Linked DNA regions of Homo sapiens. The protein of the gene in region 3 purifies or fractionates together with the protein of the main gene of each other region. This does not show direct contact. Each region holds a gene or a part of one and is shown on either strand. Other genes may lie near its edges. The genes, in order: HNRNPUL2, CWF19L1 and RALY.

Region 1 (3,654 bases), on a different chromosome or scaffold from region 3:
TCCCTGATGAGCAAAACAGGATAATACCTGTCATGTAGTTTGAAAAGTTAAAGAAGATCATGTGTATTGACCCTTTATCTCGTGTCTAAGTTGTCAAAGATACTGAGTCTTTTTTTTTTTTTTTTTTTTTTTTGAGACCGAGTCTCGCTCTGTCGCCCAGGCTGGAGTGCAGTGGCGCTATCTCGGCTCACTGCAAGCTCAGCCTCGTAGGTTCATGCTATTTTCCTGCCTCAGCCTCCCGAGTAGCTGGGACTACAGGTGCCCGCCACCATGCCTGGCTAATTTTTTGTATTTTTAGTAGAGACAGGGTTTCATCGTGTTAGCCAGGATGCTCTTGATCTCCTGACCTCATGATCTACCTGCCTCAGCCTCCCAAAGTGCTGGGATAACAGGATTATAGGCGTGAGCTGTCACGCCCGGCCTTTTTTTTTTTTTTTTTTTTTTTTTTTTGAGATGGAATCTTGCTCAGCCGCCACCCAGGCTGGAGTACAGTGGCGTGATCTCAGCCCACTGCAACCACCATCTCCTGGGTTCAAGCGATTCTTCCGTCTCAGCCTCCCAAATAGCTGGGATTACAGCACCCACCATCATGCCGAGTTAATTTTTGTATTTTAGTATAGATGAGGTTTCACCATGTTGGCCAGGCTGGTCTTGAACTCCTGACCTGAGATGATCTGCCCACCTCGGCCTCCCAAAGTGCTAGGATTACAGGCGTGAGCCACCGTGCCCAGCTGATACTGATTCTTTTGGTTAAATCTGAGTGATAATTTTCTTCCTAAACATCAGTTATTCCTCCTGTTCTTAGTGTAATGTGTACAATTCTGGCCAACGGCGGAAGCTATTGCTGTTCAAGACCTTCTCTCGGAAAGTGGTGGTGGTTGTCCCTAATGAGGAAGATTGGAAGAAGAGGCTGGAGTTGAGGAAGGAAGTAGAGGGAGATGATGTGCCTGAATCTATAATGCTGGAGATGAAAGGTGGGTGTCTTAGTCCATTTTCTGCTGCTATAACAGAATACCATAGACTTCATAATTTGTAAGTAATAGAGGTTTATTTCCCTCATTCTGGAGGCTAGGAAGTCCAAGAGCATAGCATTAGCATCTGGTGAGGTCCTTCTTGCTGCATCATTCCATGTCAGGAGGGCAAAAGGCAAGAGGGCACATGTGAGAGAACTTGCTTTTATAACAAAGCCACTTTCACAATAATGGCATTAATCTATTCATGAGGATGGAATCCTCATGACCAAATCACATTAAAAGTCCCACCCTCTCAATACTGCTCATTGGGGATTAAGTATTCAACACTTGTACTTTGGTGGGACATAACTCAAACCATAGCAGTGGGCTAAAATTGTACAAGTTAAAGAGATCTTATCCCTGGTCAGTGCACACCTTATTGAGGTCTCTTAGCAACTGGAGTGACACTCTACATCTAAAATGTAAATCTGAAGAGGAACTTAATGGTCGTGAGCACTTGTAGATAAATGAATGAACAGAGAGAAGCAATAATTTTGACTCATTGTTTTCTTGGTTTGTTTTGGTTTGGTTTTGAGACAGAGTCTCACCCTGTTGCCCAGCCTGGAGTGCAGTGGTGTGATCTCAGCTCACTGCAACGTCCACCTCCTGGGTTCAAGTGATCCTCTTGCTTCAGCCTCCCAAGTAGCTGAGATTACAAGCATGTGCCACCATGCCTAGCTAATTTTTGTATTTTTAGTAGAGATGGGGTTTCGCCATATTGCCCAGGCTGGTCTTGGAACTCCTGACTTCAGGTGATTTGCCCGCCTTGGTCTCCTAAAGTGCTTAGATTATAGGCATACGCCGCTGTGCCTAGCCGCCTTGGCTCGTTTTGAAAAAGATACAGAAAGGGAAATAGTGAGCCAGGCGCGGTGGCTGACGCCTGTAATCCCAGCACTTTGGGAGGTTGAGGTGGGTGGATTACAAGGTCAGGAGCTCACAACCAGCCTGGCCAAGATGGTGAAACCCTGTCTCTACTAAAAATACAAAAAAAATTAGTCGGGCATGGTGGTGGGCGCTTGTAATCACAGCTACTCGGGAGGCTGAGGCAGAGAATTGCTTGAACCTAGGTGGCAGAGTTTGCGGTGAGCTGGGATTGTGCCACTGCACTCCAGCCTGGACAACAGAGTGAGAAGACTCGGTCTCAAAAAAAAAAAAGTGACCGTAGGGTAATTTAAACTCAAAGGATCAAGGGAGAGGCTTCTGTGAATCAGTTATTTGTTAAGTAAATATTTCTGGTACATCTACTGTTTGTCTACATTTCTTATTCTGCTTTTTTTTTTTTTTTTTTTAAAGACAGAGTCTTGCCCTTGTCGCCCAGGTTGGAGTACAGTGGCGCGATCTCGGCTCACTGCAACCTCCGCCTCCCGGGTTCAAGCGATTCTCCTGCCTCAGCCTCTTGAGTAGCTGGGATTACAGGTGCCCGCCCAGCTAATTTTTGTACTTTTAGTAGAGACAGGGTTTCGCCATGTTGGTCAGGCTGGTCTCGAACTCCTGACCTCAGGTGATCTGCCCGCCTCGGCCTCCCAAAGTGCTGGGATTACAGGTGTGTGCCACTGCGCCTGGCCGCAGGGAGAGATTATTATGGTTCAGATTAAAATATGGCAGTTGGAGTGAATGATCTCATTGGTATAACTTGATTTCTGGTATCACGTTATGTTTGTGTTTTGTTTGTTAATTTGGCTGAAGTCTGTAATGCAATACATAAGACAGAGAGTAATGTCTACATAAGAAATATTAATATTTTGATTGATCCTCCTATTCCCTTAAAACGTGATTTTTTTTCCCATTGCTGCCTTTAGTTCCTGACATCCCACCGAGTCTAGCAACTGCTTGCTCTTCAAATACTGATAATCCCCAGGCATGGGAACTGGTTTGCATATCTATGAGCCAGATCCTCAGAGTTTACTGAGAATGAACTATGCCAGTCCATAACTCTTACTTAGGCACTCAGAGAAATGTAGCTCAGTTTTATAAAATTGAGGGCCAACTGGATTCATCTAAGAATCATGAGAGCCCCATTGAACTGAATTTCCACTGGGACTCAGCTTCTGAAGTTGACGTCCAGAGACTGGCAGATGTGCTGGCCTATCACGGACAGGTGGTAAATGAGAGCCCTTGTACTCTTGTCTTCTCTTCTCCTTGTATAGATGAGCAGATGCCTTTAGGCTTGGGTCAGTTTCTCATTGAGTCTCTCTTCTGTCAGCGAGGCCAGAGTGCAGTGGCACTCAGCCTCCCGAGTAGCTGGGATAACAGGCACCTGCCACCATGCCTGGCTAATTGTTGTATTTTTAGTAGAGACAGGGTTTCACCATGTTGGCCAGGCTGGTCTCGAACTCCTGACCTCAAGCAGTCCGCCTGCCTTGGCCTCCCAAAATGCTGGGATTACAGGCGTGAGCCACCATGCCCGGCCATCTCTGAGTCTCTTTTTAAAATGTTATTTCTTAGCATCTTATCTGACCAACACCAGAACTTTCTCAGTTACTTTTAGCCTCTGGTTACCTGCTTCTGTCCTGATGAGAAACTTTAACCCAGTTCACTCCTAATTTATTATAGATCACTTAAGAACTTGTAAATCTACATAGCCCTTTGCCTGGGTCTGTTACAATTTAGGGAAAACTTAGAGTAGAAAAAGTTAATGTCA
Region 2 (2,574 bases), on a different chromosome or scaffold from region 3:
GTTTGAGACAGAGTCTTGCTCTGTTGCCTAGGTTGGAGTGCAGTGGCATGATCTTGGCTCACTGCAACCTCCGCCTTCCGGGTTCAAGTGATTCTCCTGCCTCAGCCTCCCCAGTAGCTGGGACTACAGGCATGCGCCACCATACCTGGCTACTTTTTGTATTTTTAGTCGAGACGGGGTTTCACCATATTGGCCAGGCTGGTCTCGAACTCCTGACCTTGTGATCTGCCTGCCTTGGCCTCCCGAAGGTATTACAGGCATGAGCCACCCACGCCTGGCAAGATCTGGTTTTTGACATGTTGAGCCTAAGGTTTTTGACATGTTGAGCTATCAAGGCATTCCAAAAATGTTATTAAATAGGCAATGGGTTGGGCATGGTAGCTCACACCTGTAATCCAACACTTTGGGAGGCTGAGGCGGGAGGAGCACTTGAAGCCAGGAGTTTGATACCAGCCTGGGCAACAAAGTGAGACACCTTGTCTCTACAAAAAATAAAAAAATAAGCTTGGCATGGTGGCATGTGCCTGTAGTCTTAGCTACTCAGGAGGCTGAGAGTCAGGAGGATCACTTAAGCCTAGGAGTTTGAGGATGCAGTGAGGTATGATTGCACCACTGTACTTCAGCCTGGGCAACATCGCAAGACCCTGTCTCTAAAAAAAAAAAAAAAAAAAAGAGGCAGTGGACAATTTGGAACTAGAGCACTGGGTATTGACTAGACTGGAGATGAACAGGGCATTACTCCAAAGTTTAGTGCTTTCCTGGGAAGAGCAAGAAATTAGAATTTCCTAAGGTAGGAACTTAGAAGGATAGACGCCACTGGGAGGATATTGTTAGTATCTTCCAGTTAGACTTTTTAAGCCCTAGTTCCACTAAGTGGCTTGGGATCTATAGCAACATACATATCTTTTTTTCTTGTGCATTTAGACTGAATTATTTGCCTAGAGATGAACTCAGATTATAGATTTTTAAAGCATTATTGGACATCCTCATACAACTCTGTTTACTTTAGATTGCACAGCCAGGAGCAGCATATTTTTATGTTGAACTTGACACAGGAGAAAAGCTTTTCCACAGAATTAAAAAGAATTTTCCTTTGCAGTTTGGAAGGTATGTTTTTCTTCTTTTCAATGTATTTTCACTAGACCTGCTATGAACAGAGTGGTGGGCTACATGGGACAATTGATAAAAAGCTAAATTGTAAACAGTCCTTGCCCCAGAGGACCCATGGTCTTAGGGCAGATGTTTACATATATGACAGTAATGTAATGTAGAATGTGAAGAGTACCATGACAGAGTTTTGGAGAACAATGTGCTGTAGAAATTCAGAAAAGGGACAGCTCATTTCTAGTTGGTGAAAGCCTTCATGAAAGTGGCAAAGTTGAACCTGAGAGGCATATTTAGAGGGCAAAGATTGAGGTGAGGGCATTCTAGCCAGAAGTGCTAGGGAACTTTAATTGAGCACATACTCTGTGCCAAGAACTGTACCAAGAACTTTACACATACATGACTCATTTAATCTTCATAACTCTGTAAGGTAGGTACTGTCATCCCGATTTACCAGTGTGGAAAATGAGGCTCTAGAGCAGTGCCCGGTAGACTTTTCACAACGATGGAAATGCTCAAATATCTGCACTGTCCAATACAGTTGTGACTAGCCACTTGTGGCCACTGAGTGCTGAAATGTGGCTAATGTGACTGAGGAACTAAATTTTTGATTTTATTTAATTAATTAGAATTTAAATTTAAATAGCCATACCTGGCTAATGGTTACCCCACTGGATAGCAGGCTGTAGAGAGCTTAGGTAGCTTGTCCTAGTCACACAGTGGTAGGTTCAAACCCAGGCCTGTTGGACCTCAAAACTTGAGGTCTTAACCTCAGTGTTCTACAGTATGGTAAAGGCCTAGAGGAGGCTTCAGTTCTGTTCCTCGTATCAGGCAAAACATGACTGCAAAACCATAGAGGGAGTAACATAACTTAAGCAAAGATTGAAGATGGGAAGTTGCTGGCAAGAAGATACAGTTTGAAGGGGAGTGGAAAATGTGTAGAACAGAGTATCTGATGCTGGTGTCTGTGATTTGCAGCTGTTTTTTCTCCCCTAGTTAAAAATGGGCTTTGAGTGAGCCTTGAACCTGTCTTGGACTAATTCAGAAAGCCTCCAAGAGATTGCCCCCTTAGATAAGTCCAGTAAATGTAGTTGTCTACATTTTTCAAAAAGATAAATGGGAACAAGTGTGCTACGAGATTCAGACATCTGACGTGATGTTTTCGTTGTTGCCTCAGCAACAGATGCGGTTATGAACATTGACAACATAAGCACACGATTGCAGATACACATAGGCGTATAAAGCACACAAAAAGAAGATTCTCTGAATGGTTTTGTGCTTATGATGTATTTTCAATATTGAGTAATTATCAAGATACTAATTTATAGTTATATAGCATTTTATAGTTAACAAAATATTTGAAATGGCATATTTTTTTCAGCTGTACAAGAAAGGTAGTTCTATTTTCCTTTTATATTTGAAATAGGCTCAAAGTTTGCCCAGGGAGCTTAGGTTCTTTGACTTATAGAG
Region 3 (3,654 bases):
GCCGTCCCTAAGCTCCAGCCCTCTCCCCTTTGTTTCCCCAGTGGCTACATCTTTGACTATGATTACTACCGGGACGACTTCTACGACAGGTGAGCAGGGGAGGGGCGTGCCCAGGCATGAAACAGCCAAGCTGGAAGGGTCTTGAGAGATTGTTGGTGCAGCCCACTGAGTTCTCCAAATGAGAACCAAAACCCAGAGGTTTGCCTGGGGTTGCTCCACCAGTCGGTAGCAGAGCTGAGACTGGGGTCCTGTGCTGCAGGTGCTCAGGCCAGAGCTCCTACCACCATACAACACTGTCTGCCATGCTAACTGCCCTTTTTCCTTCTTGTCCTTGGGTGAGGCTCAAGGAGACCGTACAGCCAAGAGCTATGTAAGTGTGGCTAGTTGGAATACACAACAGGGTACAGCGCTGGTTGCAGGGAGTTTGAGCCCTTCCCTCTGTGAGGTGCCCAAGCAGCTGGTAGGAGCCCCAGAGCTCAGTCTAAGCTTCTTGGGTTTATATTTAGAGACAAGAGGCCAGCAGCCATTTGGAAGTCTAATTAGTCCCTGGCGGGCTGTGGTCTACCCTGCACTCCCAAGCCCTACCCAGACTCCAGCCCAGAGGCTGTGGGCTCCCACTACAACAGCACTAGCCACATTCTTGAGTAGAAATCATGGTAGATACTAACTCAAATCTCTCCTCCTCCCTGCTTCTCTCCCTCTGTCCAGCTTAGCCCACCCCAGGCAGCCCAAGAAGAACAGTGCCTCTCTGAGCATGAGTCGTCCGCCCCCATCCCCACCCCGCCCCTGTGAGTCGTTTCAGGAGACAGTGTGGTGTAGTGGAAAGTGTCTTAGCCTGGGGGTCAGAAGATTTAGATGCTAATCTCAGCTCTGCCACTGAATGGATTATGTGATCTTGGGCAAATTCCCTTCCCAGTTTGTGAAATGGGCTTGCACCAAGTGATCTCTCCAGGCTCCTCCAGCTCTGGGATTCTGTGGTTCAGTGATTCTGACCAAGGCCAGAGCCGTTCCCTCCCCTTGGGGGCAGAAATGCAGGGTCTGGGATCGGATCCATTCCCAGAGACTCTCCATCTGCAGCCATCACCACCTCCAGGAAGGGGCTCCCTGAACAAAGGAGCCCCAAGGAATGGGGCTTTTGCCCAGTGATGGCAGGTTTCCTGGCCGTTGTCAGGAAAATTGACCCAAAGTTTACCCCCTGGGCTGCGATTCCCTGAAAAAGGTGGCAGCAACAGATGTCAGAGAGACCACTTCTCAGCCTACTGAGTTTCTGCCTGGTCAGCTGGAAAGGAAGCCCTCCTAGAGAGGGCTTGGAGATGACTTTGGTTGGGGGCAGTGCACAGCCTGGGAGCCCTGGGGGGGTCTGATTGAGCTGCCCAACCTTGATACTCTACCAAGCCCCTGGCCTTTGTCTCTGGAATGGAGCACGAAGGATGTGGTGATTAAGGAGGTCAAGTAAGGAAAGGGCTTAGAGTTCAGTCTTATGCCTCTGAGGTCATGGGTTCGTGAATTGAGGGTCTCAGTACCCTGACCTTTCATCTATTACACGTTCTAAAGTGTGTTTTTAACCGAATTCTTTCATGCTGTGCCCTTGGGTGGACACTGAATGTGGATAGCCATCCTCATTTGGCATATGGGGAAACTGAGGCTCAGGTAGGCTCAGTTGACCCCCACTCCCATACCTCTCTATTCCTAGCTGGGGATTTGTGCTGCTTTGAGATTTGCAAACTCTGAGCAGAGGTTGGGGTGGCAGTTGACCAAGCAGAAGCCAGGTCATGTAATAGAGCAGGCCTGGGTGCCAGGGGACCTAGGGATGTCTCCTCTTTTGAATGGGGTATAACTGCTACCACCTGATGCCTTGCCTGCCCTTACTGGGCCTGGATGGTTGGAGAGGTTGTAGTGAGGTAGTGAGGATCCCAACAGCCATCAGGGTCCGGCAAGCCCTTCCTCTTCACTCCAGGGCTTGCTAGGAGCCAGCAGAGGTGTGTAGTGCAGGCCTCCCAGCCCCTCACCAGCCACACACGTTTGTAGCCGGAGCTGCAATACCGCCCTGGTGGCCACAAGCCATGCTGCAGCCTCTGGCCCATCTGCCCTCACAGGCTCTTCGACTACCGGGGCCGTCTGTCGCCCGTGCCAGTGCCCAGGGCGGTCCCTGTGAAGCGACCCCGGGTCACAGTCCCTTTGGTCCGGCGTGTCAAAACTAACGTACCTGTCAAGCTCTTTGCCCGCTCCACAGCTGTCACCACCAGCTCAGCCAAGATCAAGTGTGAGTGACTGTATCATATTCCTAAGTAATTTGCATTTTTATCATTAGCAAAATAATAGAATCACATTTTTTACATTGGAACATAGATAAAACAACAAGTCTTCCACAGTTCTGCTGCTCTAACACAGCCAAGTATTTTCATGCATTTCTAAGAGGAAACAGCTGATGTTTTAGGAGGAGGGGTTGTGTTGGGCACAGAGAGTCCAGTGCTGGATATGGTGCCCAGTGAAGAAATGGTGCCATCTTTCCTCTAGTAAGGATAAGGACAGGTCTACCCAGGCCCATTACTCCACATTCACTCTGGTACACACATGCTGCTTAACTAATCACCCAGGAATTCAGATTCCAAAAGACACATGTTCTTGCTCAGGTGCACACAGAAGAGCACACCACACATACACACCTGTGCTCCTGTCTGTCTTTGGTCCCTTTCAGAGTTGAGAGATCAGGAGAAAAGATAGCCAGGTTCAGAAGTGTGTGCTGTCACTGTAGGGATGGACGCCAGGTAGTCTAAGGAGGAGACCTTTTTCCTAAGCAGGGAAAAAACAAAACAAAACAAAAAATAACTGCTTTCCTGGTTGAAAGAACAGGGCTGAGGTTTTGTGCTAGTGTCAAGCCTCCAGCCCCCTAGGTGACAGCCCTGTCCCCCCTCCACTCCCAGTAAAGAGCAGTGAGCTGCAGGCCATCAAGACGGAGCTGACACAGATCAAGTCCAATATCGATGCCCTGCTGAGCCGCTTGGAGCAGATCGCTGCGGAGCAAAAGGCCAATCCAGGTCAGCCTCTGAGGATTCTCACCCACCTCCATGACCAGGGCACAGGGCAGAGCATGGGGAAATAGTACATGGGAGAGAGGAGCTAGGGTGGCCCTGCAGATCCTGGACCACCTGCACTCACCATGCTGAGGCCAGCTTCCGCTAAGGTGCTGCCCTAGACAGCTACCCCAGGCTGAGTTTTATTCTCCCCTCCTCCACCCCTTCCCCTCAAGATGGCAAGAAGAAGGGTGATGGAGGTGGCGCCGGCGGCGGCGGCGGTGGTGGTGGCAGCGGTGGCGGTGGCAGTGGTGGTGGCGGTGGCGGTGGCAGCAGCCGGCCACCAGCCCCCCAAGAGAACACAACTTCTGAGGCAGGCCTGCCCCAGGGGGAAGCACGGACCCGAGACGACGGCGATGAGGAAGGGCTCCTGACACACAGCGAGGAAGAGCTGGTGAGGGCCTGGCCAGGGGCACGACTGGGACTCGACTGTGCTCCTACTCTCAGGAGGCCAACAGGGGAATGGGCAGCCTGAGCTGGTTGCCCCCACTGTGAACTTCCTGTTCTCTCCTTCCCAGGGGTTCTGGTCCTGGGGGAAAGAGGGAAGAATGAGCAGGGGGCACTTGCCTATCTCAGACAC

Evidence for each region.
Region 1: the proteins of RALY (region 3) and HNRNPUL2 purify together in Homo sapiens (affinity purification with mass spectrometry; 2 studies listed by BioGRID and IntAct, with this or other methods). This does not show direct contact.
Region 2: the proteins of RALY (region 3) and CWF19L1 purify together in Homo sapiens (affinity purification with mass spectrometry; one large-scale study listed by BioGRID and IntAct). This does not show direct contact.

Annotation. Positions count from the first base shown.
Region 1 is NC_000011.10:62,717,343-62,720,996, reverse strand, and holds part of HNRNPUL2 (heterogeneous nuclear ribonucleoprotein U-like protein 2), read left to right. Parts: intron 1-805; coding exon 806-974; intron 975-3,654.
Region 2 is NC_000010.11:100,234,200-100,236,773, reverse strand, and holds part of CWF19L1 (CWF19-like protein 1), read left to right. Parts: intron 1-1,009; coding exon 1,010-1,107; intron 1,108-1,696; exon of another isoform or gene 1,697-2,574.
Region 3 is NC_000020.11:34,073,778-34,077,431, forward strand, and holds part of RALY (RNA-binding protein Raly), read left to right. Parts: intron 1-41; coding exon 42-89; intron 90-2,096; coding exon 2,097-2,263; intron 2,264-2,924; coding exon 2,925-3,038; intron 3,039-3,250; coding exon 3,251-3,468; intron 3,469-3,654. UniProt on the Homo sapiens protein: RNA-binding protein that acts as a transcriptional cofactor for cholesterol biosynthetic genes in the liver. Binds the lipid-responsive non-coding RNA LeXis and is required for LeXis-mediated effect on cholesterogenesis.